Regions from separate parts of the Homo sapiens genome. Here regions 2, 3, 4, 5 and 6 are each reported to be linked to region 1. Evidence: microRNA targets listed by miRTarBase, many of them from high-throughput screens and not tested one by one. Region 1 holds a microRNA gene; each other region holds the end of a gene's coding sequence.
The links. Region 1 holds the annotated microRNA hsa-miR-6513-5p (UUUGGGAUUGACGCCACAUGUCU, at 1,502-1,524, opposite strand). A microRNA usually pairs through its seed, bases 2 to 8, with sites in the 3' UTR of a target mRNA and lowers its output. Matches are read on the target gene's strand: a 7mer-m8 pairs with bases 2 to 8, a 7mer-A1 pairs with bases 2 to 7 and ends in A, and an 8mer does both.

Region 2: miRTarBase lists CLEC17A as a target of hsa-miR-6513-5p. Seed matches in the 3' UTR shown: 7mer-A1 at 3,869-3,875 and 7mer-A1 at 3,728-3,734.
Region 3: the mRNA of PNMA2 is a reported target of hsa-miR-6513-5p. Seed matches in the 3' UTR shown: 7mer-A1 at 3,673-3,679, 8mer at 3,483-3,490 and 7mer-A1 at 2,235-2,241.
Region 4: the mRNA of PCDHA6 is a reported target of hsa-miR-6513-5p. The part of its 3' UTR that is shown has no 7-base or 8-base seed match.
Region 5: the mRNA of RRAD is a reported target of hsa-miR-6513-5p. The part of its 3' UTR that is shown has no 7-base or 8-base seed match.
Region 6: the mRNA of FAM151B is a reported target of hsa-miR-6513-5p. The part of its 3' UTR that is shown has no 7-base or 8-base seed match.

The regions. Positions count from the first base shown.
Region 1 is chr2:218,278,663-218,283,734 of GRCh38, forward strand. MIR6513 (microRNA 6513) reads right to left here and starts at 1,526; the gene lies at 1,463-1,526. The region is part of intron 2 of PNKD (PNKD metallo-beta-lactamase domain containing); the gene reads left to right. It overlaps TMBIM1 (transmembrane BAX inhibitor motif containing 1), which reads right to left. Exons shown (of 12, transcript NM_022152.6): 2 at 3,278-3,519; 3 at 1,364-1,464; 4 at 627-691; 5 at 376-429. The coding sequence starts at 3,479.
Region 2 is chr19:14,609,580-14,614,651 of GRCh38, reverse strand. CLEC17A (C-type lectin domain containing 17A) reads right to left here. Exons shown (of 14, transcript NM_001204118.2): 14 at 2,617-4,588. The coding sequence ends at 4,456. It also overlaps a transcript of ADGRE3 not described here. Among named protein-coding and RNA genes, the nearest start is that of SNORA104, 10 kb to the left of the region's middle. RefSeq lists a silencer at 377-426.
Region 3 is chr8:26,503,512-26,508,583 of GRCh38, forward strand. PNMA2 (PNMA family member 2) reads right to left here. Exons shown (of 3, transcript NM_007257.6): 3 at 1,190-5,072. The coding sequence ends at 4,150. Among named protein-coding and RNA genes, the nearest start is that of PNMA2, 7.8 kb to the right of the region's middle.
Region 4 is chr5:141,009,556-141,014,627 of GRCh38, forward strand. It overlaps PCDHA6 (protocadherin alpha 6), which reads left to right. Exons shown (of 4, transcript NM_018909.4): 4 at 72-2,792. The coding sequence ends at 382. PCDHA1 (protocadherin alpha 1) reads left to right here. Exons shown (of 4, transcript NM_018900.4): 4 at 72-2,792. The coding sequence ends at 382. It overlaps PCDHA2 (protocadherin alpha 2), which reads left to right. Exons shown (of 4, transcript NM_018905.3): 4 at 72-2,792. The coding sequence ends at 382. PCDHA3 (protocadherin alpha 3) reads left to right here. Exons shown (of 4, transcript NM_018906.3): 4 at 72-2,792. The coding sequence ends at 382. It also overlaps PCDHA4, PCDHA5, PCDHA7, PCDHA8, PCDHA9 and PCDHA10, and 7 more genes. Among named protein-coding and RNA genes, the nearest start is that of PCDHB1, 39 kb to the right of the region's middle.
Region 5 is chr16:66,917,718-66,922,789 of GRCh38, reverse strand. It overlaps RRAD (RRAD, Ras related glycolysis inhibitor and calcium channel regulator), which reads left to right. Exons shown (of 5, transcript NM_004165.3): 5 at 437-1,105. The coding sequence ends at 714. CDH16 (cadherin 16) reads left to right here and starts at 3,905. Exons shown (of 18, transcript NM_004062.4): 1 at 3,905-3,986; 2 at 4,712-4,769; 3 at 5,065-5,072. The coding sequence starts at 4,725. RefSeq lists enhancers at 101-624, 625-1,148.
Region 6 is chr5:80,541,159-80,546,230 of GRCh38, forward strand. It overlaps FAM151B (family with sequence similarity 151 member B), which reads left to right. Exons shown (of 6, transcript NM_205548.3): 6 at 515-1,405. The coding sequence ends at 674. Among named protein-coding and RNA genes, the nearest start is that of ANKRD34B, 27 kb to the right of the region's middle.

The DNA.
Region 1 (5,072 bases):
AAGTCTGAGGGGAAGCAACTCAACAGGAAGCAAGAACGAGATTACCCCCAGCCAGGGTCACTGAGATGCTCTGAAGCACCAGGCTCCGGCCAGGAAGGAGGTCTGGGGAGGCTGCAGCTGACGGGCTGAGAGGACATGGGGGCTGCAGCGCAGCGTGCACGCCACCACCAGCAGGTCCCACTCTTGCTCTCGAGTTCTAGGGGTCTGCTACTCATCTGGGCACGCACACCCACACCCTCTGGCACGGGAAACTGGCACCAACTTGGGGGCCCTCTCAAAAAGCATTTTGATCCTGCCCTGAGCAAAGCTGGTCACCTAGAAACAGAAGCTGCCACCCCTGCCTCCCTGCCCAACCACAGAGGAGCACACACTCACTAGGACACGTAGTAGACAGCCACATTTCTCCTCACAAAGGCGCTGACAGGTTCCCTGTGGGGCACAGGAGGACAGGAGTAGTCACCCTGAGGCTTGTCTGCCCCACCCAGGCCAGCCAGGCAGCCCTGGCTTCACCTTCTCTAATTGCCCATGGTCACCCTGAGAGCAGGGCCCACCGCCACCCACACCCCCAGCAGGTGACCCTGAACCCCCAGGGCAGTAGGAGTGGGTGGCAAAGCCTAGAGACTTACACAAAGGTGAAGATAGCAATGATGGCCACAGTGATGAGCAGCTGCACGGAGATGATGGAGTAAACCTGGACACAGACGGCCGGGCATGGGTCACCATCCGGCACCCCTGGCCTGCCCCAGGAAGCTGCCAGCCCCCAGTACTTTCCTCCCACTCAAGAACCCTCCCTAGCTGCAGCCTGGCCCAGAGGCGACCCCAGTGAGATGCCTGGCTCAGAGGCAATGTGCACTTCTTCCTCAGCCCCGCTCCCATGCTCCCTGCCATCTCCCCTCCTGTCCAACACCAGCCTCGGTGACTACTGACTTGCCCTGCCTGGCCACCATACTCTACCAGTATGGCCTCTGCACTCCCAGCAGCTCAGTCTGCACGCTCTATGCAGCTGTGAGATGGAGAGGGTGGGTTACAAGCGAGTAGGATCATTTCTGGCTCCAAGCTGCCTATAGTCTAAAGGGAGAAAGATGTCTGGGGAAGGCGGGCGCTGTGGCAGAACCCACCTAGGAGATTCTCCCAGACTGAATGTGTCCTCCCAAAACATGGTCAAGAAGAGAGGTGCAAAAAGAGAGGGAACCCTGGGGTTAGAGAAGCCAGGTGCCCCTCTGAGAAGCAGACAAGGCTAGAGAAGACAGGCAGCCAGTGTATTTCATGGAATTGATGCCCTGGGGCTACTGTGGCCTACCCACTTCCCATTCCCACAGCCTGAGGGGCCCCAGGTACACCCACCTCCCAGCGCGTATCTTACCTTTCGGATAAAAGTGTGTCGCACTTTCCGGTCATCCCACTCTCCAGGCCCGAAGCTATCACTCACTGCTCTCTCCTCCCCATCATAGCCATGGCCTGGGCCTAGGGACAGATGACACTTGACTCAGCTGGGGACCTGAGACATGTGGCGTCAATCCCAAAGCCTCCCTGACAATCTCAAAGTCTCAGGGATCTCCAGCCAAAAGACAAGTGTTATAACAGGAACTCTTCTCCCAAGCTGGGGTCTTCTAGACACCCTCAGAGTGACCCAGAGCCGGCCTGTCACGAGGGGGCTTAGGTGGGAAACGTTCCTCACGTGCATCTGTGGAGGGCTCCTGTGTGCCCAGCCCACGCCACTGGGGGTTCACTGGGGGGTCACGATGTAGTGGGGAAGCCAGGCAGGAGCAGGTATGGGCATCCACTGGGGCAGCCAGCCAGGGCAGAACAGGGGATGGGGACAGAGGGTAGGAGAAAAGGAGGGCGGCAGAGCGCAGTTTGTGCAGCAGCAGGGATAGAGGTGAAGACAGGGATCTGCATCAGCCTCACAGAGGCAGGTGTGCAAAGGGTGTGCGTGACTGTGCAGGACCCATGCGCAGATCCGCACCAGCGCACATGTCCAGGTGAGAGCTGGCTGACACCCCTCTGGGGTTCAGAGATGCTGCAGGGCTGCAAACATTCCCTGAATGCCTGAATGCCTGAATGCCTCTTTGGGAACTACTTTTAAAATCCACGCTTGAGCCACCCAGGAAGACTCACTGCACTCTAACTTCACCTCATTTCCTTTTTTTTTTTTTTTTTTTTTTTGAGATGGAGTTTCGGTCTTGTTGCCCAAGCTGGAGTGCAAAGGCGTGATCTCGGCTCACCGCAACCTCCACCTCCCGGGTTCAAGCAATTCTCCTGCCTTAGCCTCCTGAGTAGCTGGGATTACAGACGCATGCCACCACGCCCGGCTCATTTTTTGTATTTTTGGTAGAGACAGGGTTTCACCATGTTGGCCAGGCTGGTCTCAAACTCGTGATCCGCCCATCTCAGCCTCCCAAAGTGTTGAGATTACAGGCATGAGCCACCGTACCCGGCCTCTTTTTTTGTTTTGTTTTGTTTTTTGTTTTTTTTTTGGTTTTTTTTTTGAGACAGAGTCTTGCTCTGTTGCTCAGGCTGAAGTGCAGTAGTGCGATCCTGGCTCACTGCAACCTCCACCTCCTGGGATTGCAAGCGATTCTCCTGCCTCAGCCTCCTGAGTAGCTGGGATTACAGGTGCACGCCACCACACCCGGCTAAGTTTTTGTATTTTTAGTGGAGATGGGGTTTTGCCATGTTGGCCAGGCTGGTCTCGAATTCCTGACCTCAGGTGATCTGCTCGCCTCAGCCTCCCAGAGTGCTGGGATTACAGGCGTGAGCCACCGCGGCCGGCCTCACCTCATTTCTGACCAAACACAAGCATGTCCCTGCCATGATGTTTACCAAACTTGGCTCCAAATGTCTTTTGCAAAAGTCAGATTTCACTTTAAAGGATGAGGAAAGTGGTTCAGGTTCCCAAAGGAGTTCCTAAGGAAGTCGACAGGTCTGGGAGGTGGCAGCAGCTTGTTGGCCGCTTGTTGGGAAACAGAGCTGGTGCCCTGAGGTAACCCCTCAGGAGTCATTACTTGGCCCAGCCCCATTCTCCTGTGGTGTGTACGTTCTGGGACATGCCTCATGGATCTCCTTGAACAAAGGGGGCAGCAAGTGGCTGGGGGCCAGTTGCTGAGGCAAAAAGTGGAGGGTAACAAAGACAGAAACAGAGGGAGAGATCTCAACAGAGAAGATGAGAAAGGGATTTAAGGGAAACTAGAAGAGAAAAGGGGCAGGAGGCGGTGGCCTCATCTGCTCCAAGTGCTGTCCCTCCCACCCACCTTCCATCTGCCCTTCCAGGACTCACCGTAGTTCATGGGCATCGGGTGGGTGGGGGGCATGGGCTGTGGGTAGCCAGCAGGGTGACCGTAGCCAGGCTGCGGGTAGCCAGGGTAGGCAGGATACCCTCCTGGCAGGACAGATGGCTGCCCATAGCCCCCAGGGGGCGGAGGGCCTGGGTACAGGGGGTTGCGGTCTTCATATGGTGGTGGGGCGCTGGGGTTGGACATGGCTGCTCACGGGCTGAGGGGGAACCCCAGCTGCTGGGACCTGAAATGGGAGAGGAGAAAAGCAATCGTGAATGCCCAGGCCCAGCTCACTCAGCCTCATGGGCCCACTTCCAGCCTTGTCCAGGCTGCCTCCGTGGAGAGGAACACCACCTATTTTCTCCTTAGAGGGCAGCGTGTGATTTGCTGTCCACAGGCCACCTCCCCACCAACTGGGCTCCTGTCCCTCCTGCCTTTGCGCCTGCTTCTTGTCCACAGGCCTCTCACTGTGCAGCTCCCCAGCCATAGGAAAGCAGGAGGAAGGATTCGCTGAGGAGAGAGGGAACCAGGGAGCCTGGGAACTCCCTGTTGTGGTTTAAGAAAACCTTCCAGTTTTGGTGGCTTGATGGCAGAACCAGCGAAGAAGCCAGATGGGCCAGGCACAGCCTCCTGGCGACTCACAGGGCCAGCTGGGACCCTCTGAAAGGGTCAGCTCTGCCCCTGCCACAGCTGACGGGGATGCCAGGCCTGGAAGCCAGAGCTGGGTTGGAGCCAAGGCTCAAAGTGGAGAGCCGGGGGAAGAAGTGGAGGAAAACAAGCTAGCCCCAGTGCCAGAGCTGCCAGGCCCCGAGGAGGAAGGGATCCAGGGACCCGGGGGCCAGTGGCAGGCTGAGTCAGGAAGCCTGAGAAGCAGGAGTGGGTGGTACAGGGGCTGGGGGCAGGGAGGCTGTGCCAAAGGGCCAGCTTGAGACAGGACTTTCTGGTTCCTTCAAATAACAGCGGTGGCGTGTCAGAAAGGCATGCGGCAGCCTGCGACCACAGCTGCTCTCTGGCCTTGCTAGGGAAGAGAGAGTGAGTGCACGGCCCCTCGCCCTCCCCCTTACCCCCACCCTGGAGGGGGAGACAGATGTTCTGAATCCCAGGCTCTCTGTGAGTTCTACCTGTCTTCCAGGTGCAGTGCTAGCAGGGAGGACAAAGAGCTGAGGAGTCAGGCCACAAGGTCAAGGGAATGCCTTCCCTGCAGCAGGAAGAGCCCCATAGCCAGGGGAGGGCCAAGAAACCAGGGGGAGGGAACCCCAAACTGGAGTTGGAAGGGACCTCAGGGCCATAAGCCCCAAATGCTCACTTCAGATGAGAGAATGCAGGCCCTGAACAGGGAAGTGATTCCCCAGAACCCCAGAACTCGCAGGTCAGTGGCATAACCAGGACGGAGGCCTTCCAGATCCTGGGTCCAGGTCCTTCATGTTATGCGGTGCTCTTATGCCTCCTCTGCCAGTTACTGTCCTCTGGGCCTGGTGGTCCCCTCTGAGGTAGCAGAGATGCAGGCTTAGGAGGAGCTAAGGAAGCCCCTAGAGGGCCCCTGCATCCCCAGTAAGGACAAGCCCTGGCAGTCTGGGCTCGACAGGGCCACCACCTCTTCTAGAGCATCTACAGGGGGCTTTAGGATCCCCAAGGAGGACACCCCCAGATGCAGGTCAGCAGACACCAGAGGCTCTCAGAGGCTCTGCTGGAAGCAAGAGAGACCAGCGTCTCTTTTTAGGGCACATTGCATAGTTCGGGGATCAAATAAAGGACTGTCTTATCTCTTCTCTTTTATGACAACTGGGATAATTCAGA
Region 2 (5,072 bases), not on the chromosome of region 1:
TGAGCCGAGATCACACCACTGCACTCCAGCCTGGGAGACAGAGTGAGACTCTGCCCAAAAAAAAAAAAAGATTGGCGGGCGTTGGTAAATATTCCAACCTCACAAAGTCATGGTGAAGATTCAATGAGAGCCACTGCATTTATTTACCACACAATATATGTTTGATAAACCATGGTTATTATTTTTATCCAACTGTTGCTCCCCTGGACCTAAAGTGGTAAAAAGTGACCTCTTTCATATTTACCTCTCTGCAATTAGATAATCATGAGAGATGTGGAAGGGAGATAGGTTGGGACCAGTTCCACCAGGGGCCTCCTAGAGACGTGACCACAGACCCCTGCTTCCCCATTTCTCAATACGCATATCAGAAAACAACTTCCCTCTTCTGAAATGTGGGAACTTCCCCTGACCCCAGATAAAGTTGCTTGACATAACAGTCCCCTGGGTGGAGGGTTTACAACACGACACCCACCCACTCAGCAGGCTGCGGACAGTACAGGAGCTGGCTTTGGTAGTGATGCATCAGGGCAGCTGCAGAGGTGGGCAGAGGTGAGAAGAGAGGACAGACAGAACCAAAACTCAGTAGTGGGGTCGTGCCTGTGAAATGCCACTGCACTCCAGCCTGGGCCACGTCCTGAGAACCCATCTCTTAAAAATAAATAACGAGGCTGGGTGCAGTGGCTCACACCTGTAATCCCAGCACTTTGAGAGGCCAAGGCGGGTGGATCACTTGAGGTCAGGAGTTCGAGACCAGCCTGGCCAAAGTGGCGAAATGCCGTCTCTACTAATAATACAAAAATTAGCCGGATGTGGTGGCGCACACCTGTAATCCCAGCTACTCAGGAGGCTGAGGCACAAGAATCGCTTGTACCCAGGAGGAGGAGGTTGCAGTGAGCCGAGATCATGCCACTGTACTCCAGCCTGGGTGACAGAGTGACACTCCATCTCAAAAAAAATTTTTTTAATAACGAAATAAAAGAACAAGTAGATTTAAAACAAATCAAAGAAACAGGAAGTGAAATCAGCTCCGACCTCTCCCACCACCTGCTCTCCTCACAGTCTCCTTGCTATAAGCACCTGTTCTCAGACAAAACAGGAAAGATTCTGCTATTGATTAAGGGAGCTTATTGATCAATAAATTGATCGCAATCCTTGTATTTTAGGAGGCTGAAGCAGGAGGATTGTTTGAGACCAGGAGTTTAAGCCCAGTCTGGGCAACAAAGCAAGACCCCTGTCTATACAAAAAAAAAAAAAAATTAAAATTAGCTGGGTGTGGTGGGGGCACACCTGTAGTTCTAGTTATACAGGAGTCTGAGGACGGAGGATTTCTTGAGCTCAGGTGTTTGAGGCTTCAGTGAGCTATGATTACAACACTGCACTCCAGCCTGGGCGACAGAGTGAGACCTTGTCTCAAAAAATAAAATAAGGCCAGGCATGGTGGCTCACGCCTGTAATCTTAGCACTTTAGGGGGCTGAGGTGGGCGGATCACTTGAGGTCAGGAGTTCGAGACCAGCCTGGCCAACATGGCAAAGCCCTGTCTCTACTAAAAATACAAAAATTAGCCAGGCATGGTGGCACGTGCCTGAAATCCCAGCTATTCAGGAGGCTGAGGCAGAAGAACCAGTTAAACCTGGAAAGCAGAGGTTGCAGTGAGCCGAGATCACGCCGCTGCACTCCAGCCTGGGCAACAGAGCAAGACTCTGTCACAAAAAAAAAAAAAATAAATTGATTGGTTTGGAGAATGTCTACCCACCCTTGGATGCAATTCAGGGATTGTCCAAAGGGAATACTATGTTGAGTTATGCCTAGCTGGGAGTAGTACCAGCCCTCTAATTGGTATTTTTTGGTTGTCACATGGCCAGGGCAGGAGGGTCGGGTGGGGGTCACTCTGGCAGTTTGTGAATGTTATGGGCCAAATTGTGCCACCCCTCCCAAATGCATATGTTTAAATTCTAATTCCCAGGACCTCCTAATATGGCTGTATTTGGAGACAGGATCTTTAAAGTGGTCGTTGTAGGCCCAGCACAGTGGCTCATGCCTGTAATCCCAGCACTTTGGGGGACCAAGGTGGGCAGATTGCTTGAGCCTAGGAGTTCAAAACCAGTCTGGGCAACATGGTGAAACCCCGTTGCTACAAAAAATACAAGAATTAACCAGGCACGGTGGTGCACACCTGTAATCCCAGCTACTCAGGAGGCTGAGGCGGGAGGATGCTTAAGCCTGGGAGGTGGAAGTTGCAGTGAGCTGAGATCACACCACTGCACTCCAGCCTGAGTGACAGAGCGAGACCCTGTCTCAAAAACAAAAGAAGAGGAGGAGGAGATTAGGACCCAGACACACAGAAGGAGAACCAGGTGAAGACACAGGGAGAAGAGGATCATCTACAAGCCAAGACAGGAGGCCTCAGAAGAAATTAACCCTGCCAACACCTTGATCTTGGACATCCAGCCTCCGGAACTGTGAGAAAATGCATTCTGTTGCTGAAGCCACCCAGTCCTTTGTTATGGCAGCCCCAGCAAACTAACACACAGTAGACAAGGAACACCCAACATAGTGGCATTTTGAGAAGCACTAACATTGCAAGAGCTAATAGCCCAGGAAAGTCCACACAGAAGTAAAGTGAATTTTTATTTTTATTTATTTATTTGAGATGGAGTCTTGCTCTGTCACCCAGGCTGGAGTGCAGTGGCACAATCTCGGCTCACTGCAACCTCCGCCTCCTGGGTTCAAGCAATTCTCGTGCCTTAGTCTCCTGAGTAGCTGGGATTACAGGCACATGCCACCACGCCCAGCTAATTTTTTTGTATTTTTAGTAGAGATAGGATTTTACCATGTTGGCCAGGCTGGTCTCGAAATCCTGACCCCAGGTGATCAGCCCACCTCAGTCTCCCAGAGTGCTGGGATTACAGGCGTGAGCCACTGTGCCTGGCAAGTAAAGTGAATTATATCATCAAAGACGTTACAACCCACAGATAGCTCAAGGGCACGTGCTGGCAGATAGGTCCATCGTTGTCCTGTGTGGATATGACCAGGTTATGGCCTGCCTGGCCACACTATGTAGGGGTCTTGCTTTTCAGCTGGTATGCCTTTCTAGAAGTTCCATGGGCCAGCCAGGTGTGAGGGTGAACGCCTGTAGTCCCAGCTACTTGGGAGGCTGAGGCAGGAGGATCACTCGAGCCCAGGAGGCAGAGGGTGCAGTAAGCTATGATTGTGCCACTGCACTCCAGCCTGGGTAGTAGAATGAAACCCTATCTCAAAAAAAAAAAAAAAAAAAAAAAAGGATAGAAGTTCCACGGGCCAAGTCTTCTGGCAAAAGTCTGATTCTGCCACTTAGCTTGTGCAAACCTCACCCAAGACATTGAGAAAGTTGCTGGTCAAAAATAATTTTGATGGTTTCTGGGTTATTTGTGCTGTTTGAGACCAGGAAGGAAGCAGTGTCTGGAGAGGACGACATGGGGTGAATATAGAAGCTCTCCTGTCTTCTCCGCTGATGTTCTGTATTTTTAGGTTTGTAATTTGCAATGATGTGGGGACTACATGAGACCAGCCCACTTAATGTATTTCTGTGCGAGGCAGATCTAGAGGTCTAGCTCAAAGGGAAATTTTTCTGTCACCACTTTCAAAGCTTTTGTTTGGAAAAAAAAAAAAAAGGAAAAGATGGGGAAAGTAAAAATAAAAATAAAAATATCGGCCAGGTACGGTGACACATGCCTGTAATCCCAGCACTTTGGGAGGCCATCACGGAAGGATTGCTTGACCCCAGGAGTTTGAGACCAGCCTCGGCAACAGAGTGAGACCTCATCTCTATAAAAATAATAATAATAATTTTGAGCCAGGCACAGTGGCTCACACCTGTAATCCTCACAATTTGGGAAGCCCAAGTAGGAGGATCCATTGAGGCAAGGAGTTTGAGACTGGCCTGGGCAACATAGTGAGACTCCCTCTCTTTAAATGCTACAAAAAATTGGCCAGGCATGGTGGTGCGCATGTGTAGTCCCAGCTACTCAGGAGGCTGAGATGGGAGGATCACCTGAGCCCAGAAGTTTGAGGCTGCAGGAAAAGGAGCCCAGTCCCAGCTCTTTGTGGTTCACAGGCGCCAGGATATTTCATCCCAGGTTCAACACCAGCCCCAGGGTCCTCAGGGCTAGTATCACTTCCCAAGAGTCATGATCAGGAACTTAGTGAAGATCCTTTCAACCCCAGAAGTGGGAGACCTCCCACCACCAAGCTCTGAGCATCCTCCCAGCTCACCATCTACTAGGGCAAGCCCAAGTCCTCACTCTAGAAACAGCCTGACTTGCACCCCTGGGAACTTGCTGCATCCAGGGTGCCAATCCTGTTTGAGGCACATCTGTGTGTCCACTCACGAAGAGGCAAGGCCGTCCACGAAAGGGCAGGAGATTCTCATCTCAAAGAGACACTCAGATATGGACCCCCAGCCTCGGCCCTGGGCTTCAACAGGAACATTTCCGCTCACAAATCCAATACGTAGTTTTGTAGCAAGAGAGATCATTCCAGGTGCCACCTTTGTTCATGGTAGCACAGTCCTCATCGTGGATGTTATTGGGTTCCTCTGGCTCCCAGAAGCTGGATGGAGGAAAAAGTGGGCAGAGGGACAGGGATCTTTAGGGTGGTGAAACTCTTCTGTATAATACTGTAATGATGAATACCTGGCACTACGCATTTGGCAAAACCCATATTAGGCCGTGTGTGGAGCCTTACACCTGTAAGCCGGGCACAGTGAGCCACCGTGCCTGGCCCTTAATCAATTTCTGGTTTTGGGGGGTTTTTTGTTTTGTTTTGTTTTGTTTTGGAGACAGAGTCTCACTCTGTCGCTGAGGCTGGAGTGCAGTGGCGTGATCTCGGCTCACTGCAACCTCTGTCTCCTGGGTTCAAGCAATTCTCCTGCCTCAGCCTCCCAAGTAGCTGGGATTACAGGTGTCCACCACCACACCCGGCTAGTTTTTATATTTTTAGTAGAGACGGGGTTTCACCATGTTGGCCAGGCTGGTCTTGAACTCCTGACCTCAAGTGATCCGCCCGCCTCAGCCTCCCAAAGTGCTAGGATTAC
Region 3 (5,072 bases), not on the chromosome of region 1:
AGCATGGCATAGCTGGGAAAGGAGAGCAAAGCCGAGAGCTGCTGAGCAAAGTCTTGCATTTAGGATGGGCAGCAGAACCCAAGAGGAGGGGTGGCCTAGTGGACATGGTGGGTGCAGGTGCATGGCAGGTGACACCAAAGGCCTAAAAAGGCAGGAGGCTGATGGCCTCAGTCTTCACCAGACAGCACTGGTGGAAAGTTATCCTCAGCAGTGATTCAAGAATCTTGGGGCCTGTATTTGAGAGTCAGGACTGGAGAAGTATGAAGTATAGGATGAGACCACCCCTTGGAGAGTTTGCTTGGGTGAGTGGGAGATGGCGTTGGGCCCCCTTGGGACATTCCTCTTTAATGGGCTGGTCTGCAGGATGTATGGCCCAGTGAAAGATACTCCCCCATTGCACTTTAGAAAAAAGAAGGAGAAGCAATTTCAAGAAGGCCAAAGGCAAGAGGAATTTCCCCCCATATACCTCCATAGAATAAAAGGTGACTTCAGGCTGGGCACGGTGGCTCATGCCTGTAATCCCAGCACTTTGGGAGGCCAAGACAGGTGGATTACCTGAGGTCAGGAGTTCGAGCCCAACCTGATCAACATAGTGAAACCCTGTCTCTACTAAAAATACAAAAACTTAGCTGGAACGTGGTGGTGCACCCCTGTAATCCCAGCTACTCGGGAAGCTGAGGCATGAGAATCACTTGAAGCTGGTAGGCAGAGTTTGCAGTGAGCCGAGATTGTGCCACTATACTCCAGCCTGGGTGACACCTTGTCTCAAAAAAAAGAAGAAGAAGAAGAAGAAAAAGGGTGACTTCAGCCCAGAAAAGCAATATTCGACCTTCAGGGTCATTCACCCTTGGCAGAATAGAGTCTGGGAATTTATCTGTACAGTTACTTTCCTAAGCAAATGAGCTGGGGGGTCTCTGAGGCAACTGACCTCCATCTGTTGTTTCTGTATATTTTAAAAGAGAAATCGATAATGGGTGGACCGAGCTCTCCCTTGTCCCCAGAGACATAGTTCAAGTATTCTTGTTCAAGCATTTTTTTGCTTTCAGGTTTTCTTGCCTACAGGATTCTAAGACCTTTTGGCTTTAGCTTGATTTTCTCAACTTATCTCTCAAAATTTTTCAGTAACAAAGCTCCTTCTTCAAGCAGTACTTTATAGAGACCACGATATAGGAAACAGAAAAACTCAGGATTTTATTAGCATATATTTATTTTATAACTTCACATTTATAACATTTTACTTTGTATACCGCCAATAAATGACAATGAAACTATTTTCATAAATACAAAAACACATGAAATTAGGGTGTCATGGTAACCACTGCATCACTTTGGTGGAACAGTATTAAAAATAGAATTTAGAAAGATAAATGATCACAAGTGATACCTTTTAAAAAATGCTTTTCTTACAATCTCAGGATATTCTTCAGTTAAACTGAACCACAATCAGAAAAAATAAGTAATTATTTAAAAGTCAAACCTCTAACAATTGTCAACAACTGCTGGAAGAGTCATCACAAATATAAAAAACAACAAGCACTCAAATTTACAATAAGAGATGAAACGGTTTCTAACACCAGGGTAGACTGGAAGTCAACTGGAAGCATATTAGCTTGTTACCACACAACTGTCAGAACAATAAAGAAAGCATGCATTGAGCAGACAGGAACATCGTGAAAATCCTAAGAGCTTCAATGTATTGAGGGCTTTCTGTGTTCCAGATGTCATGCAACGTGCTTAAAAAGCATTAAGTCATTTGTTCATAACAACCGTGTACTCTCATCTTCTTATTTTTCAGATGTGGAAACTGATGTCTAGAGAAGCTAAGCAATTTGCTTACAGTATGCACAAATCTACCACAAGACTACACATCAACTGTGTTGGAGATTTGCCTAGCACATATAACTAAATGGTGCTCATCTGCACTGCACTCACACACTTACGTGATACACAGGTCTGATCTAAATACACAGGTCTGATCTACACAACCATGTGGTGCTACCGCTTTTAAAATCTGTGAACAATTAAAAGAAGTTTGGATACGTACACAGATACCATAAAGGAAACTTTGCTCTAAGGTCTGCACAAAATGAGCCAATCTGAAAATAAAAGTAAACCTGGTGGTGAATGCTGATGTGTTAAAATTTGGTTATCAGCCCATTTGAATCTAGCTGCATTTACTAGAGACTTAAAGAGTTTAGCCCAGGCATGGTGGCTCACACCTGTAATCCCAGCACTTTGGGAGGCCGAGGTGAGTGGATCACTTGAGGTCAGGAGTTCGAGACCAGCCTGGCCAACATGGTGAAACCCCATTTCTACTAAAAATACAAAAATTAGCTGGGCGTGGTGGTGGGTGCCTGTAATCCCAGCTACTCGGGAGGCTGAGGCACGAAATCGCTTGAACCTGGGAGGCGGAGGTTGCAGTGAGCTGAGATTGCACCACTGCACTCCAGCCTGGGTGATAGAGCAAGACTCAGTCTCAAAATAATACTAATAATAATTAAAAAAATAAAGAGTTTAAAACACATTTTGGAGATGGCACTGCTAGAAAATCTGCAGAACTGCAGAGCACAATTTGAAAGTCATCGTGATGGTAGAGGATGGACTAGTGTGAGTCAGAAAGTTCTGGGCTTCTGTCTAGGCTCCATCACTTCTTGGCATTTTGGTGTTGAGGAGACCACTTAACTCATCTGAGCTTCGGTCTTTCTCTTTATAAAGAGCAAAATTATACCACAACAGGGTGGCTGTATACATTCAATGAGATATACATGAAACACTTTGCACACAGTAGGCCCTCAATAAATGTGAGTTCCTTTTCTCTCCTCTTCATCCTTTGTTGCCACTAAAAGCCTTCTCTAAGCAAACCAGCCTGCTCACTAAATCCAAACCTGCCCTAAACAACCCTGCTCTCAAGCATGCAGTCCCCTCATGTCCCCCTTTCTTTGGGGACACCTCTCAGGCTGTGGACCTCTGGAAAGTAAAGCTTAGGTTGAGTCATCTGTGTCTTCAGGGCCTGACACAGCACCTAGCTCTGGGACCATCTATCTGACACCTAGCAGAAAGGCAGGAAGAACACTTCCCAGGTTAAAACAACAACAACAATGACAACAACAACAACAAAAATCTGCAGGCAGAGGTGGTCCTATTCACTGGGTGATGACACTTTTACTGGGGTGATGAACTTATTTACACAAAGGGTTAGTTAGCCTTTTACCTGTCTAGATCAGCTCCTCATCTAGACTGGAACCTCTCTGAGGGCAGGGCCCATTTTGTAGGTTTATAACTGCTCAACTGCAGGTTATAGCTGTAGTCTTGTAACTCCTTGTACAGTGTCTCACAAAGCCAGGCACTCAGAGAGAATTTGCTGATTTGAGAAAGGAAAACACCTGACAAGTCAAACAGCTTTATTTTTCAAACATTACAAAAGGTATTTTTTTTTTTGACTGCCAATTCTTTCTTCTATGGTATGGGCCAATTCTGGTCTATTTGGGATTATTTAAAGAAAATTGGAAGTACAAGTGTTTCAGATTCCTTCAGGCTTACTATTTAATATTTGGAGTTTAATCTTTTGTTCATTAATAATCTACATAGGGTCTAAGAAACTCCTAGATATTTTTTTCTTAAAAAGAAAAATCAAGGGCCAGGCATGGCGGTTCATGCCTGTAATCCCAGCACTTTGGGAGGCCGAGTTGGGCACATCATTTGAGCCTAGGGGTTCCAGACCAGCCTGAGCAACACAGCAAAACCCTGTCTCTACCAAAAATACAAAAGAATAGCTAGGCATGGTGGTGCGTGCCTGTAGTCCCAGGTACTTGGGAGGCTAAGGTGTGAGGATCACCTGAGCCTGAGCCTGGGAAGTCAAGGCTGCAGTGAGCCGAGATTTTTGTGCCACTGCACTCTAGCCTGGGTGATGAGAGTGAGACCCAAGAAATAAAGAAGAAAGAGAAAAAGAAAAAAGGAAGGAAGGAAGGAAAGAGAGGAGAGGAGAGGAGAGAGGAGGAGAGAAGGAGAGAAGGAGGAAGGGAGGGAAGGAAGGAAGGAAGGAAGGTCAATAATTGGCTTTCATGGTTTGATTTCAGTCCCATACATTAAAGAAAAAAATTTTTTAAAGGTCTTAGCCCACTGGCTGTGGGTCCTGCCCCCAGGTGGTTTTCAGTCGTCTCCCTCATGATTCCAGCGGCCATAGCCATCTCGTTCCTCTGGCTCTTCGATACTCTCATTCTCAAAGGAGGCCTCTTCCTCCTCTTCTTCCCGTATTACCTTCATTAGCTCAAGGAAGCTGGGGGGCGGGCCCTGATCCTTCAGCTCCCTAAGCCGGCACCACAGCATCTGGTTAAGAGTGGCCCCAGCCATGACCTGCTCCAGGCGGACCTGGTCCGCAATACGCCGAGGGATGGCGCGTTTCTCCACCGCTCTCCGGAGCAGGGTTTCTAGCCGTAACACATAGGCTGAGACCTTCTCTCCTTCCTCCTGATAGGTCTTCAGATACCTCACCTGGGCTGTCCTGCGGCTCTCTAGGCTCCCAAACACTTGCTTAAAGGCCTCCAAACACTCTTCTACACTGATGGACGGGTTGTCTGCCTGCACTATGTGCATGAGGTCCAGGGCAGGGCCCCGCAGGCTTTCCGCCAGCCACCTTTTCTTTTCTGCCTCTGTTACTGGCCACTCTTTGACTATCTCCGTGGCCTGTTCCAACCAGACCTCAAAGGACTCTTCCTCTGGGGCTGGGACAGCACTCCCTGAGAATACTCGCAGTTTCCGGTATCTCATGGGTAGCAGGGGCTGAGGCGCATGTGCCATTGCCTGTCCCAACAAATGGGCCAGTAATTCTGGTGAGATGCAGGGCACTGTGGCTGGAGACACGCCCTCCTGCCCCAGGGCTCGAAACATACCCGAGACCGTCTGCCCCTCTTTTTCTAGAAACAGGTTCAATCTTTCAAGAAACTCAGTGTCCTGATTAGGGGTCTTAAAGATCACCTTCCAGACACCCCCCTTTCCCTGGACCTCACTGGGAATGGCCGAGACATCAGTATCTTCCAGAAGCTCTAGTAAGACAGCATTGGCATTCTCCTGCT
Region 4 (5,072 bases), not on the chromosome of region 1:
ACTCTACCAGCAGTGTGGCATCAAGAGCATGTGTTGACCCTGTTAATGATTTGTAATGTTTTGTCTTTCAGAACCAGAGGCAGGAGAAGTGTCCCCTCCAGTCGGTGCGGGTGTCAACAGCAACAGCTGGACCTTTAAATACGGACCAGGCAACCCCAAACAATCCGGTCCCGGTGAGTTGCCCGACAAATTCATTATCCCAGGATCTCCTGCAATCATCTCCATCCGGCAGGAGCCTACTAACAGCCAAATTGACAAAAGTGACTTCATAACCTTCGGCAAAAAGGAGGAGACCAAGAAAAAGAAGAAAAAGAAGAAGGGTAACAAGACCCAGGAGAAAAAAGAGAAAGGGAACAGCACGACTGACAACAGTGACCAGTGAGGTCCTCAAATGGAAACAAGCCACTTAGCCAGTTTTTGTAATAATGGCAAATCTCTCCCATGTAGCAATTCCCTGCTCCTTTTTCCTATCTACATGAGCCCTCTTAGAGACCTCAGAAATCTGCAGAAAGTTCCCTGTGTCTGTCTAGAACGCATTTAACAGGTTTTGTCGTAAAAGCTTTACTAAGTCTGGTGTTAACTCTTTCTCTCCACTCTGGCTTGTTTTCAGAACCTAAAAAGCAGACCCAAGTTTCCTTTCTCCTCCGCCGCAAAGGAGAGGCTTCCCAGCCCCGCCAGTGAGAGGTTGGACTCTCTGCCCTGTGCTCCGGGGATCCTGTCTTGATGACACTTGCAGGGCAGGCTGAAAAGTTTTGAGATTGAGCAGCTTGGGAGTTTGTGGCCACTGGGTATGTGTGGCTACCGCGGGTATGCGAGTGCCAGATATTGGCTGAGACGAGCCAGCTTAGACTAATTGGTACAAGGAAGGCAAGAAAACAAAGACAAATAAACAGCGGAAGTTATCAGTATGGAGGGGAAGTGTAAACTTAAAGGGACCAGACTTTCTAAATCTTACAACTCAAGAGGTGGCAGCCACCCTCTAGGAGACAAAACTACCCCCACTGACAAGGCTTTAGGAGACCCTAAAGTCTGTTGGCTGTGACGTCATTATACCTAAAATCTGCATCATACCTGCAAGCCAACAGTTCAGTGTTTTAACAGAGAACCACCCTGGGAAACAGAAGCAGATCTGATGTGTTTCCTATACATGTCCTGTGCTCACTTTATTAAAAATTCTTTTGCACACAATGTTTATGAAAAGGCCAGATCCTTTTCCAATACTTATGCAAAAGCAAAAGAAAACCCCGACACCTCACCTTTCGCTGTTTGTTGTTTCATAGATTTATTTAAAAAAAGAGAAAGTCTATAGCTATAAATCTTTAAAGAGAAATATGAATACAATTCCCCTAAACTCTCCTCAAAAGAGAATTCAGTCTACAGCCATTTAAATGATCATTGCTGCTACAGAAGTGCTTTAAGAGAATTGCCTGAAACATCTGTATTATATCGGCCACCTGCCAATCACAGCTTTACTCTTTCAGGTCACTCTGGGGCTGCCTCTTGCATGTATTACTAAATAAAATGATCTCTCTTTCTCTCTCTCTCTCTCTTTTCTAAGAAACAATTATGTGCACTTTGATACACAACCTTCTCTAACCAACTATATATCAAGACCCAAAAATTGAAGAAAAATATTGTTTTCTCATACAGTGAGCAGATTTTTCAATCTACTAATTCTGTGACTTGTCTTGGTGTGCTAGCCTACACCTTCTCTTTGGTTTAGTTTTCCTTTTCTATAACACTCTGAATTGCTAATCTTACTAACACCTATGATGTTACCTGAAATCAATCTCCCATATGTATGCTGTATGCTATGCTAAGACTCCTGAAATATACTTACTCTGTGCTTGTGTATGTGAATGTTAATGCAACTATTACCTAGAGTGAACTTTAAGCTTTATTGTTGAATGTAATTCCATTATATTTCCTTTTGTACACCTGTGAAAAAGTGGAGTAGTGTTTTTTTAACCATTGTTAATCAGCTTTTGTGTATGAAAGACACAGTAAAATTTCTTTCTTAAATCAAGATACTGGTGATTCAAGGAATTTTATTTATGGTCCAGCCAAGAGCCATCTCGTGCCAAGACTTCTGCTGGCAAGGGAATGGATAAAGCTGTTTTGTTCTAGTAACAATTTTGGAATGAATACTGACAATATTCCATGAGGGTGTGCAAGCACAAATTTTACCAATCTGACCTCTTTGAAGTTGCAGAATGCTTTGAAATTCTAATGGTATCTGAAATATCAGCTCATAGAAAGTAACAAAATTTGCTGTCACCTTAAATAAGACATTTTAATTTTGTTATAATGTACAATTTAGAAGTTTGATTAATTATATTATCTATTTAGGCATTAATATAAAAGAGGTAGGAGTCTGTTATTTAAAAAAAGCATTAAATTTAAAAAAAAACTGTCTTGTCTACTTTTAGCTTCATTCTCCCATATTTTGAAGGGTGTGTAACTTCAGCTCTGCAGGATTGCATGGGGTAAAACTTGTTACCAACACATGTGAACCATTGCTACATTGTAGGTTGTGATCATTTTGCCCCACTGAAGCCCATGTATCTGACCTTACGTGCCTTTTGAACTAGGAGAATCGGGCTAATTTATTAATGATGATAATTATAATGTATCTGTACAGCACTTTTTACATTTGCGAAGTGCTTTCCAATCCATGTTAGTTACTAGTTATTACAGCTGTAAGGATAAAACACGTCATGTGGATTCATTTTGAATTGGTGCTATTGGTATTTCCTCTGTTATTGCTAATAAATGAAAATGGTGGTATGAAAGAAATGGTGGTCATTTCTAAGAATAGGAGGAAATAGAACACTGATAAGCAATTAATACTGAAGAAGATTGCTGCAGTATGAAACTCACTGTAACACTCTCTTATCACGTTAGCTTTTATGTCCATTACTAAGGCAAAAGCCCCAGTGGAATCAAGATTCAAACTTCATATCATTAGAATGGGCAGCCAGGAGGTTGCTGCGTCACTTTGTAGTTACACTATTTCAGTTTTCTCTAATAAGAATTGCAACAAACCCATTTTTATCACAAGAGCCCTTCTAGGCATCTTTTTCATTACTTGTTTAGCCCTTGCACCTCTCTACAATTGGAAAGCCAAGTGACACCCCAAAGAAATGAACTTTTAGGTCAGGGATAGTGGCTCTTGCCTGTAATCTCAGAACTTTGGAAGGCCAAGGCCAGAGGATGGCTTGAGGCCAGGAGTTCAAGATCAGCCTGGGCAGCATAGCGAGATCCCATCTGTACAAAAAGAAATAACTTTTATTGAGTACAGGGTGTATGCCAGCCACACTACTGCATAGGTTCAGCTGTGACAAATAGATTGTTTTGTCCTTTTGTAGTTAAATTTGTATAAATATAAGCTTTAGATGCTGTAGGTTCTCAGTTAGGAGCAATTTTGCCCTCCTGGGGACATTTGGCAACGTCTGAAGTCATTGTTGCTTTTCATTACTTGAAGTGGAGGGTGCTATTGGCATCTACTGGGTAGGGGGCAACGATGCTGTGAAACACCTGGCAATGCACAGGACAGCCCCCTATAACAAAGGATCTTACAGCCCAACATGTCAATGTCTCAAATCAAGATTGAGAAACCTTGAGATAGAGTGACCATATAATTTGTGTAGTCCACTTTTGAAATGGAACAGGAGACACCATTCGTTATTACTTCAGGATTCAAGATGTAAACTGGGACTGTCCCAGGCTAACTGGGATTTATAGGGACTCTATAAATAAACTGGTATAGCTGTGCCACTAACTAGATGGGGAATTTGAGGCAAACCACTACTTCTCTCAGTTTTTCAGTCATCTCTAAACTGGTCATAATTATAATACAGACCTTATAGATTTGTGAGGTAATCTTAAAAGGTTTTAGCAGGTCTGGCACACCATAGTACTCAATAAATATTATTATTTATTAATCCTTTTCTTCCATTTCCTTACCCCCTTTTCAGAGATTTAGCTATTAGACCCAGGGAACTTTTCCTACTGACTAAAATGTGAATGAGGGATGGCCAAAAAAATCAACATAGTCTTGGCAATAAAAATATTTTATTTACTCCTCCGCTCTTTTGCTCACCCCAGGAGGAAAAGAAATAAAGTCAGTTTCATAACTCCTTACCTATTTCTATCATAATAATAATCAAATCCCTAAGTAGTCAAGTGGCCAGTCTGTTTGCAGCTATTTCACCTCAATTATTGGTGATCTGAAAGCCAGAAACCAAAGGGTTTGAAGTACAACAGCTTGAGAGAGAAAGAGAAGAGTCACCTCCAACAACTTCTTTCGGCAGATGAGCAAAACAGAAATGCCAAATTACCCACAGACTTGCCTGGGATTTCACAGGCAATAAAGGACAAGACAGGTGCATCTCTCTCAAGGGTCAGGCTACTTGATATAAGTCTCACATATACAGAGTGCAGGATTCATTCTTTAGAAATATTGCAATTGATCTAATTTTAAAGGATGAGATTCTCCAATGAGTGTCTAGAGCCTTGGCTTTGAATTTTAGGCTCCTAGGTAAGATTGTAAGTGCCAGGATCTCATGTTAATGTATTTTACGTTTAAATTATAAACATTATGTTTGTTATAAACCCCAATCTAAAGTACAAATGTAACTGACCAAACACTAATGCAATTTTACTGTTAAATCTAGATTTAAAAACCATGCAAACATTAAGAGATACAATAAAACAAGTAAACAAACAAAACTACAGATACAGTTCCTCAAGACTTTCAGTCCCTGGAGCTTTTCCAGGAAATGGAAATGGAAATAAGTTGGCCACTCTTTGACCTATTTCATCATATTTTCATGTGCTTCCTTTCCTTGTAGAAAAAGCTGATTATGTTATTTCCCTCAAAATTACCTTGACTGTTGGCTGGCAGGACACAACTTGCAACCTGAGAAATTTCTTCTGGCTTTATGCACACACACACACACACGCGCACACACACACGCGTGCGCACAGTCATACGTGCACACACGCGTGCACACACATGCACACGCACACATGCTGACACACATGCACATGCACAGAGGTTCTTACTGTAA
Region 5 (5,072 bases), not on the chromosome of region 1:
AATGGCGTGAACCCGGGAGGCGGAGCTTTCAGTGAGCAGAGATTGTGCCACTGCACTCCAGCCTGGGAGACAGCGAGACTCTATCTCAGAAAAATAAAATAAAATAAAATAAAATACTAAGTTGTCCAACATAGTTCTCATTTTCCTGTGTTTACTACTGTCGTACTTTGTTTAAATATCAGGCTTCAAATTATTTCAATAAATGGATCTCCTTTTGAGGGCCACTGTTTTGGGGGCTCCTTAAATGCAGGCACTCTGCCTACTGGGTGACGCAGCAGTGCCCAGTACCCTCAGTACAGGAGCTGGGGTCTCTGTGTTTTCGGGGAGGACCTTGCAAATTCTCGAGTGGCAGCTTCCATGGGTGGCCACTGTTGGAGGGGACTCCTCATTCACCCACCCTTTGTTTACTGGTGCCTGCCTTTCCCCACCCACACAGAGGGCCGGGCCTGCGCGGTGGTCTTTGACTGCAAGTTCATTGAGACATCAGCGGCATTGCACCACAATGTCCAGGCGCTGTTTGAAGGTGTCGTGCGCCAGATACGCCTGCGCAGGGACAGCAAAGAAGCCAACGCACGACGGCAAGCAGGCACCCGGAGGCGAGAGAGCCTTGGCAAAAAGGCGAAGCGCTTCTTGGGCCGCATCGTAGCTCGTAACAGCCGCAAGATGGCCTTTCGCGCCAAATCCAAGTCCTGCCACGACCTCTCGGTTCTCTAGGTCCCACCCGCTCCCACTATGGTGGGAGACGAACGGAAGGGTTGGTGGGCTGGCCCAGCCAACTGCCCCGGGTGCCTCAGAGCAGGCTCAGACTCTGGGTCCCTCGGAGCTGCCAGCCGGGCACCCCCAACCTCATGGTCATGGACAGATAGACAGTGCTGCCCTGCGAAGTGGCTCTCAGGGGCCAGTGAGGGCTGGGCCCACAGAGATGCATGCGCAGGCTCATATGCGTCCCAAGCAGCCGCAGCGCAGCCGCCGGGCAGGCCTGCGTGCCGGGAGAGGACTCTGCCTTTTTTCACAGCCCGGGTGTGCCTGCCCTGGAGGGAGGCTCTTCAGTGCGGTAGCTATTTGTTTACATGCAGATTTTTGTAATAAAGGCTATTTCCTGATAGTCATGGCTGTTGACTCTCTTTCCTCCTATCTGGGCGCTTCAGGAGCTGGAAGGATTTCTGAAGTTGAGGGATGGGGGCTCACTGCCCCACCCTAGTGTGTGGCCATGATGTGTTAATGTGAGGGTCCAGATTTAGCCAGCTGGGATGGGCATCGGGTCTGGTTAGAGGTTCAAGGAGCAGGAGACACAAACCCCTCCCAGTCCCTGTTATCCAGATTCTTCTCTTTCTGCACTGGGGCCTGGCGTTGCCCAACTGATTGAGGGTTCAATCACTTCACTGTCCATAAAGGGAAACAGGCTGCTCAGGGGAGCACATTCTGCCCTGGGTCTCACAACCAGGCAGGAACCCTGGGTCTCACAACCAGGCAGGAACCCTGGGTCTCACAACCAGACAGGATCTGGCTCCACAGCTGGTATTTCTGCCCTGTTCCCTCTTGAGGGGCTGGAATCAGCTGAGGTTGGGGATAGAGACCTCCGAGGGGTGGTTTGTGAAGGCACACACAGCTCCACATGGCTCCTCCACCACTTCACTGGGGTTGAGCTACGGAGGAGGCACTCACTGTTCTCTCTACCATGAGTATCCAGGCCAGAACATTCCATGCTCAGCATTGGCTAATTCAGTTTTGGTGGGAACAGCTGCCGGGAGCCCGCCCTGCCTGGAATGAGAGGTCTTGCATTTGTATAGGAAGGTGTACTCGTGCTTATGTTTAGGGATGCACCTGTCTCCCTGCCCACCCATGCCCATGGCTCCCTCACCCTCGGCACAAGTGCTGCTAAGAGTTTTTATCTACATGGTCTCAGGAAAAACCATCCCCATCTGGTGCTGGGTGGGAAGTGGCTGAGTGGGGACTGGTATACAGGTCTGCCCATCTCCAAAGCCTGGAGGCAGCCTGGGGCGAGGTGGGGGGCAGTTTCTAAGAAGGTTCTGGGCCAAGGTCCATACATTCCTTCCTTAGTTCAATTTATTCAATTTATTCATTCCCTCACCCTCGGCACAAGTGCTGCTAAGAGTTTTTATCTACATGGTCTCAGGAAAAACCATCCCCATCTGGTGCTGGGTGGGAAGTGGCTGAGTGGGGACTGGTATACAGGTCTGCCCATCTCCAAAGCCTGGAGGCAGCCTGGGGCAAGGTGGGGGGCAGTTTCTAAGAAGGTTCTGGGCCAAGGTCCATACATTCCTTCCTTAGTTCAATTTATTCAATTTATTCATTCCACAGACTCCAGGGAGCCCTGGCAACCTGGTTAGAATCCTGATTGCAGCTTATTGAATGGCAGGAGGAGGCTTGAGGGCTGCCCCTCCATGTACAGGGGAGCGCTGAGATTCACCCACGTGCTCCCCAGGGCAGAGGTAACTGCTCAGAGCTGTTGCTGCTCTGCCCCTCCTCCCCACATACTTCAAGGAATGCAGAAGGCATGGTATTTTCAGATCAAGTGAGGGTCCCCAGGCCTTCCTGGCTCTGTCACTTATTGACTGTGTGACCCTAGGCAAACCACTCAGCTTCTCTGTGCCCCAGCATGTGCCCAATGCCCCTTCAGAACGCAGTATGTGGCATAATGAAGGTATGTGCTCAGAGCAGTGCTGGGCACAGAGCAGGAGCTTAACACGTGTGAAACCCCCTTCAACCTCCCCACACTACACTGCTCCAGGCTGGGTGCCAGAGTGACCCTGAAGCAGGCACTCAGCTTGTGACAAGGCTGGGGGCAGCTGGGGGTAGCTTCTGGCCTGAGAGAGACTAATCAGATGTACAGTGGGAAGGACTTCGTGGGGACCATGGGAAGCTCCAAGGCTGGAGAGGGACTGGAGACCTTCTTCCCACCCTCTCCCCTCATTCCAGACTCCCAGGCCCCAGAAGCATCTCCTGGCTCTGCTTGGCTGCCCTCATTGCGGGGAGAGCCCCTGTTCAGCCCTGCAACTCCCTCAAGGTCACCTGAGCCAGTTTAATCTTCTTAGGGGCATGAGACTGCCCACTGTCTCAGCCCTGTCACTGTTGAGTGGCCAGTGTAAGGACTTCGGGAGCTCATAGGCTGCTGCACTCCCCCACCACAGGTCCCCCTGGGGGGGGTGGTCTGGAGCCCCAATACCCACTTCCACTCATGTACTGCTCACCCATCCTTTGCAACCTCCAGCTCCTTGTCTTAGTTCCACAAGCCATGCGGAGCTGCCAGGGCAGAATGAGAGCCAGGTCATTCCTGAGTCCCTGAGTTCTGCTCTCAAAGGGCTCCCAATCTAATGGAAGAGGCAGACAATGACAAGCTGGTGTCCTCTGTGTATTAATAGAGATAGCACATGGCATGGTGTGAGGGGGAGGGGCATTCCCAGAGGAGGCTCCTGAACAAGCCTGGGAACATAGGGGAAGTTTCCTGGAAAAAGGAATATTTGAGCTGAGCACTGAAGCATGCATGAGCAGGTGCTTACCACACAGATGAATGAGTGGGAAGGGTGTTCCATGCAAAAGGAACAGAGTGTGAAAAGGTGTGGCTGCAGACACTGGAGCCTGGGAGATAAGTCAGACCAAGTCTGGAGCCACAGAAAAAGTAACGTCCAGAACCAGAGGGCCAAGGAATACCTCCTGGGCTGTGCTGGGGTCGAGGGAGTGCCAGGCCAACCATCTCCCCACCTCCTGGAGCTGGCAGTCACGGATGCTGAGCAGCTCCTGGCTTTCCAAAGTCAATGAGTAACTTGGGGGGCTGGGCGGGGCCAGGCCTGCTGCTGTGGGCCCAGTGGCCTTTTCCACTCCTGAGCAAGCGTGGCTGAACCCTCCTACCTGCTCAAGTGCCCTGCCTTGCCCCACCCAGCCCAGCCTGGCCAGAGCCCCCTGGAGAAGGAGCTCTCTTCTTGCTTGGCAGCTGGACCAAGGGAGCCAGTCTTGGGCGCTGGAGGGTGAGGGGCTGGGAGTGGAGGGGAGGGCATGGCTGAGGCTGAGGTTGGTGGTGGGGAAAGGAGAAACACTGCCCTGTCCTCGCCATCTGGGAAAGAATTCCCAGGGCCTCATCTTAGAGGGGTTGTCGATTTGTCGCTGCTCTGCCTGCCCAGCTCCATGACAAGGGCTGGAAAATGATGAGACAAGGGCCGGGCTCCTGCTCCGGGGGTTCTCCTTGTCTAGAAGGTGGCAGTGGGAGGCAGGACAGTCCCAGAGGCCCTGAGCTAGGAGGACTCCTCCTGTGGTCAAGTCCTCTGTGACCTTGGCCAGACCCCAGCATTCAGGCCTTGCCTGCAACAAGAGGTGACTTCAGGAAGTGACCCTCCAAGTCTTCAGGAACTTTCCAGCTTCAAACTTTTGTGATTTGGGGGATTGCTAGAAAATTACCACTTTGGGATCTGCGGCCTGGGGAGGCTATGGTGAGAAGGAGCTGGAGGTCTGGAGGTGAAATTCTGATAGAGTGCTTGATGGACCAAGAGCCTAGAAGCAGGGTGGCTGGGCCTGGGGGCCTTGGTGGGCCTGGCCGAGGAGCAGGGCACTACCCTGCAGGAGATGGAGAGCCTCAGCTCCTTTGGAGGGGAGGAAGAGAAGACTAGTCTGCAGTACGATCCCACTAGTTGTGTGTGTGGGATGGAAAGCCCCTCCCTACCCACCTGGGCTGGATCCTCACTGCCGTGTCCCTCAGGCCTGTCCTGACCATGGTCCCTGCCTGGCTGTGGCTGCTTTGTGTCTCCGTCCCCCAGGTGAGCTAGGCCCTGCCCCCTCTCCTTCAGGTCTTGGCTTTGGGGGTTGACACCCTTGCCCCCAACTCCACCTGGACCAATTGCACTGACCGTGAGAACGGTGCAAGGCATGGGAGGGGTCAGAGCTGGGACTATAGAGCCACTGTGGGATGAGGAGGTCAAAGACCAGAGCGCGGGTGGATGGACTAAGGTACAGCCAGGCCCTGGGAAGGGGCGGAAATTCCGCTCTTCTGTTGGGTCTCAGTGCCCACGCAGGAAGATAGAGCCTGGTGACAAGGTGAGAATCCTCCCACAGGCTCTCCC
Region 6 (5,072 bases), not on the chromosome of region 1:
ATTCTTAGTGAAATCTCTTGGCATTCTTGTATCTCATACAAAAACCTCCAAAAGAAACAGCAGGGCCTCCGTATATGATTCTAAGTATTGTGGATGTCAGTGACATTTGTGTCTCTTCACAATCCCTTCCCATTGTGCTTTTCACCCTGACCAGGCTCCTGAACAAACCCAGGTTACAGATTCCTCCATCAGCAACATAGTCTCTTCGATTCCTTTTTCCAAAATTAGAACCATTTCCCATGCCACTCATCTGGTTTCTTAGTCCATTTAACAGTCCTGCAATTCAGATAGAGCAGTTATGTCGTTTAGACAACAGCAGTATGAATGTTTTTTTGTCTCTAGTCCCTCTTGATGAAAGAATGAAATATGAAAGTACAGTTACACCATTGCTGATTAATTTTTTCATCTGAGTGCATTTGAGTTAGAGATAAATGAAAGCATTTTTAGGCTTATTGGAATGACTCATCGCTTTCTTCCACTTTTAACTGTATAATTCTGTTTTATTTCAATGCAGGTACAGCCTGACTATTTGGACTGGAAAAAATGATAACTATTCCGTTGAAGATTTACTTTACATTAGAGACCATTTTGACAAAAAACAAGTTTTCTATGACATCTTGGAACCACAAAACCATGAATTTAAACAAGCCATTGGAATCAAAGTTAATCTCTAAGAAGAAGATTCTCAATTATTTCCTGTGTTTTGGTTTCATAATCCTTCTCTCCATTGGTCTGAATTAATTACCATATAAATTATGGTTATTGATTGACGTTCCAAGTCATCTAATCAAGAAACGTTTATTGTATGCTTACTCTGTGGGCATATGTCCTTATAATAGTGCACTTACATAAAAGATTTGGAAAGAAGAGATTTATTTACACACGTGGCCTAGTCTAATAATAATTCAGGAAAATGATACTCTGCACCCCTTCATAAAAATAGTTTTGATAAACTAAAGATGATTGGCAGAATCCATATGTCATAAAACAGGTATAAATCACATGTGCTTGGCACTTGCATTACAGAGATTATGAAAAATATGGTACTCTTTTCCTTTTTCCTAGAAAACTGGTTATTTTAGAGATAACAAAAAAGGAAGAGGGCTTTTAAAATGTTTTTAATTTTCACAGGGGTCAGCAGCTGTCTCATATCAAGATCTATTAATCCATTTCCTGAAACTGTAGATTAAATTAGATAGATCTAGAATTTCCATGTGATTGAGAAGCATGCTAGTGGCTAAGTGTTTTTTTTATATTTCTTATTTCTATAGTATCTGATTTATAGTGGACAATATACTGTTGGAGAGCAGTTTTAGTCTTTGTTATGTATCATTTGTTTTCCAAGTTTCTTACTGCCACCACCTTCATTCAGGTCCTTGTTCTACTAGTAAAACTTTATGAACTACTTTTTTCACGGCTCATTCCTCACATTCTACTCAGAGATCTGAGTTTTTCTGCTAAACAAAACTTTCTTTTCTTTTCTTTTTTTATTTATAATAATAATAATTATTATTATTATTTTGAGATGGAGTCTGTCTCTCTCACCCAGGCTGGAGTGCAGTGGCGTGATCTTGGCTCACTGCAGGCTCTGCCTCCCAGGTTCATGCCATTCTCCTGCCTGAGCTTCCTGAGTAGCCGGGACTACAGGCGCCCCCCCACCACGCCCGGCTAATTTTTTATTTTTTTAGTAGAGACGGGGTTTCACTGTGTTAGCCAGGATGGTCTCTATCTCCTGACCACATAATCTGCCCTTCTCAGCCCCCAAAGTGCTGGGATTACAGGCGTGAGCCACCACGCCTGGCTTTTTTTTTTTTTTTTTTTTTTTTTTTTTGAGACAGAGTCTTGCTCTGTTGCCCAGGCTGGAGTGCAGTGGTGTAATCTTGGCTCACTGCAATCTCTGTCTCCCCAGTTCAAGTGATTCTCCTGTCTCAGCCTCCCAAGTAGCTGGGACTACAGGTGTGCGCCACCACACCCAGCTAATGTTTGTATTTTTAATAGAGATGGGGTTTCACCATGTTGGCCAGGCTTGTCTCAAACTCCTGACTTCAGGTGATCCACCCACTTCGGCCTCCCAAAGTGCTGGGATTGCAGGTGTGAGCCACCACACCCAGCCAAAACTTTCTTAAATACCTCTTTCTTTATGCCAAATCAAAAACCTTCAAGGGCTTAAACTCAATTTTACTCAGTTTTCCTCTTTCAAGACCCTTCATAATGCAGTCCCACCTAAAAGTCAGTTTGTTGTGCTCCAGCACGGTTCTTCATTTAAAAAATTTATTCAACATCAATGGTTTCTAGATCCTACTTTAACCATTAATCTTAACTATTTAGTTATTTCACTAATTGACACGTGCATGTTAGCTATGTCTCCTCAGCTAGACTGTAAATTCCTTTATGGCAAAGGTTCATGCTTAAGTATCTTTTACAGTGCCTGGCATAGTCCTGAGAAAAACATCCAGAAAAATATGTTGCTGCTTTGATTTATTAACAAGTAATTTACTAGTGAATGTCCTAAAAGATGTAATTTGCCTTTTGTCAATCAACCATTTTTCTCCCAGAGAATAACATAGTTCTATATAGAGAAAAGATCTTGGGTTTTGAATTCAGACAGATTTTCTTTACAGCCCCACCTCTATCCCTTACTAGCCATAGACTTTGGGAAATCTTTAATGCCATTGACTCCAGGCTCACTTGTCTATAAAGTGGAGGTGGGGGAATAAAATTTCTCTTGTAGGGTTGTTGTGAGGATTATGTGAGATTCATGTAGTAGAGATATCTAGCTCAATGACATAGTGAATGCTCAGCAAAGTTACTCTTCTTTTAGACTTATCCTGTGATCATGTCCATTATAGCTAGATAGCACTAAGAGATACAACATCAAACATTGTAGACATATAAATACTTAAAGACAATTATAGTATTTCCACTTGAAAATTCAGCTCTAGTCAAATGGAATGCTTCTTGTCAAATCATACCTAAAACTTTACTATCCATGGTTGTTTGCCAAAGACAAAAGGTGCAATTTCATTATAAAATTTCAACTGCTATAGAAAATAACTTTTTAAATTATAGTAAATTAATTTATAAATTTTCTACAAAGACCATGCATTACTAAAGACAGGTGAATTTATAAATAAACTGCCTTTTGTTGAAGTTCAAAGTAAAACTCACTTGTCCAGAATATTATTTTTACTACTTAATTGTCCTACCTTTGATAATTTTTTTAAAATATTAATATTATGGTAAAATTATATATTGAGAAATCTATAAGCCTAATATCACTTAGTTTTTTTTTTTTTTTTGAGACAGAGTCTAACTCCGTCACCCAGGCTGGAGTGCAGTGGTACAATCTTGGCTTACTGCAACCTCCACCTCCCAGGTTCAAGTGATTTTCATCCCTCAGCCTCCCAAGTAGCTGGGATTACAGGACTGTGCCATCACACCTGGCTAATTTTTGTATTTTTAGTAGACAGGGTTTTGCCATGTTGGCCAGGCTGGTCTGGATGGAACTCCTGGCCTCATGTGATCTGTCCGCTTTGGCCTCCCAAAGTGCGGGTATTACAGGCGTGAGCCACTGCATGCAGCCTCACTTAGATTAATATTTAAAGGTGTATTTTAAACTGTTCTCAGGAACAAAAACGCATAAGAGAATTATAAAATGTATTCTGTTGGAAAGTAAAATTTTAATAGCTATCCATATGGAAAAAAATAACCTTGATCCCTACCTCATGCCATATACGAATAATTTGAGATGGATCTTAGGCCAAAATGTGAAAGCTAAAACCTTAATGCATTTAGAAGAGAATAAGGGAGAATGTTTTCAGGACTTTGGGGTAGGCATAGGTTTCTTGTAACCCAGAAAACACTAGCCATAAAAGGAAACATTGATAAATAGACTTTATCAAAACTTAAAACTTCTCAGAAAAGACACCATTGACACATATCTGACAGAGGGTATATTACTCCTTTAAACTATAAGAAAAAAACCCAAAAAACTGACTAAAAATGGGCAAAAGACTTGAATAGATACTTCACACAAAAAAAATAATTCAGATGGCCAAAAGAATATGAAAAGGAACTCAACAGTATTCCTTATTCAGGAAAGACAAGTTTAAGCCACAATAAATGCCAGTACATACCCACCAGAGAGGTTAATATTATAAGGACTAAAAACACCTTTTAGGAAAAAAAGGAAAACAGTTTGGCAGTTTCTAATAAAGATAAGTATATCTCTACCTTAAGACCCAGCCACTCTATCTGTAGCCATATACTCAAGAGAAAAGAGCTCATGTATTTACATTAAAAGACTTGTAAAAGAATGTTCATAAAAACTTAATAGCCAAAAACTAGAAACAACCCCAATTTTCATCAGTAAGAGAATTTATAAATAATGGTAGACTCATACAATGAAATTACTACACAGCACTAAAACAGTTTGAACTGATGTAACAATAAAGGTTATTAACAACATCATGCAAAAAAAAAGGCACAAATGAATACATATTCTCTGGATCCATTTATATGAAGTTAAATAATAGTCAAAACTAATACATGGTGCTAGAAGTCAGAATAGTAGTAACCTATACGGTTCTGTCGGGTTTTGTCTGGGATGGAGCATGTTGGAACTTTTTTGGGTGTTGAAAATGTTCTCTATCTTGTTCCGGGAAATGGTTATTTTGATGTGTACATAGGCAAGGCAAAAAACTTATTGAGTTGTCACATTTAATATTTGTGCATTTTACTGTATGTAAATTATATATCCATTTTCAATATATTTTAAAGGCCTTGATGTACAGAAATGCAATAGAATACTATGCAGAAACTTTTTAAAATTTTTTATTTTTTTGATACAGCATCTCGCTCTGTTGCCCAGGCTGGAGTGCAGTGGAATGATCTCGGCTCACTGCAACTTCTACCTCCCAAGTTCAAGCAATTCTTCTGCCTCAGCCTCCCAAGTAGCTGGGATTACAGGCATGTGCCACCATGGCCAGCTAATTTTTTTGACTTTTGATAGAGATGGGATTTCACCATGTTGGCCAGGCTGATCTCACACTCCCGACCTCAGGTGATCTGCC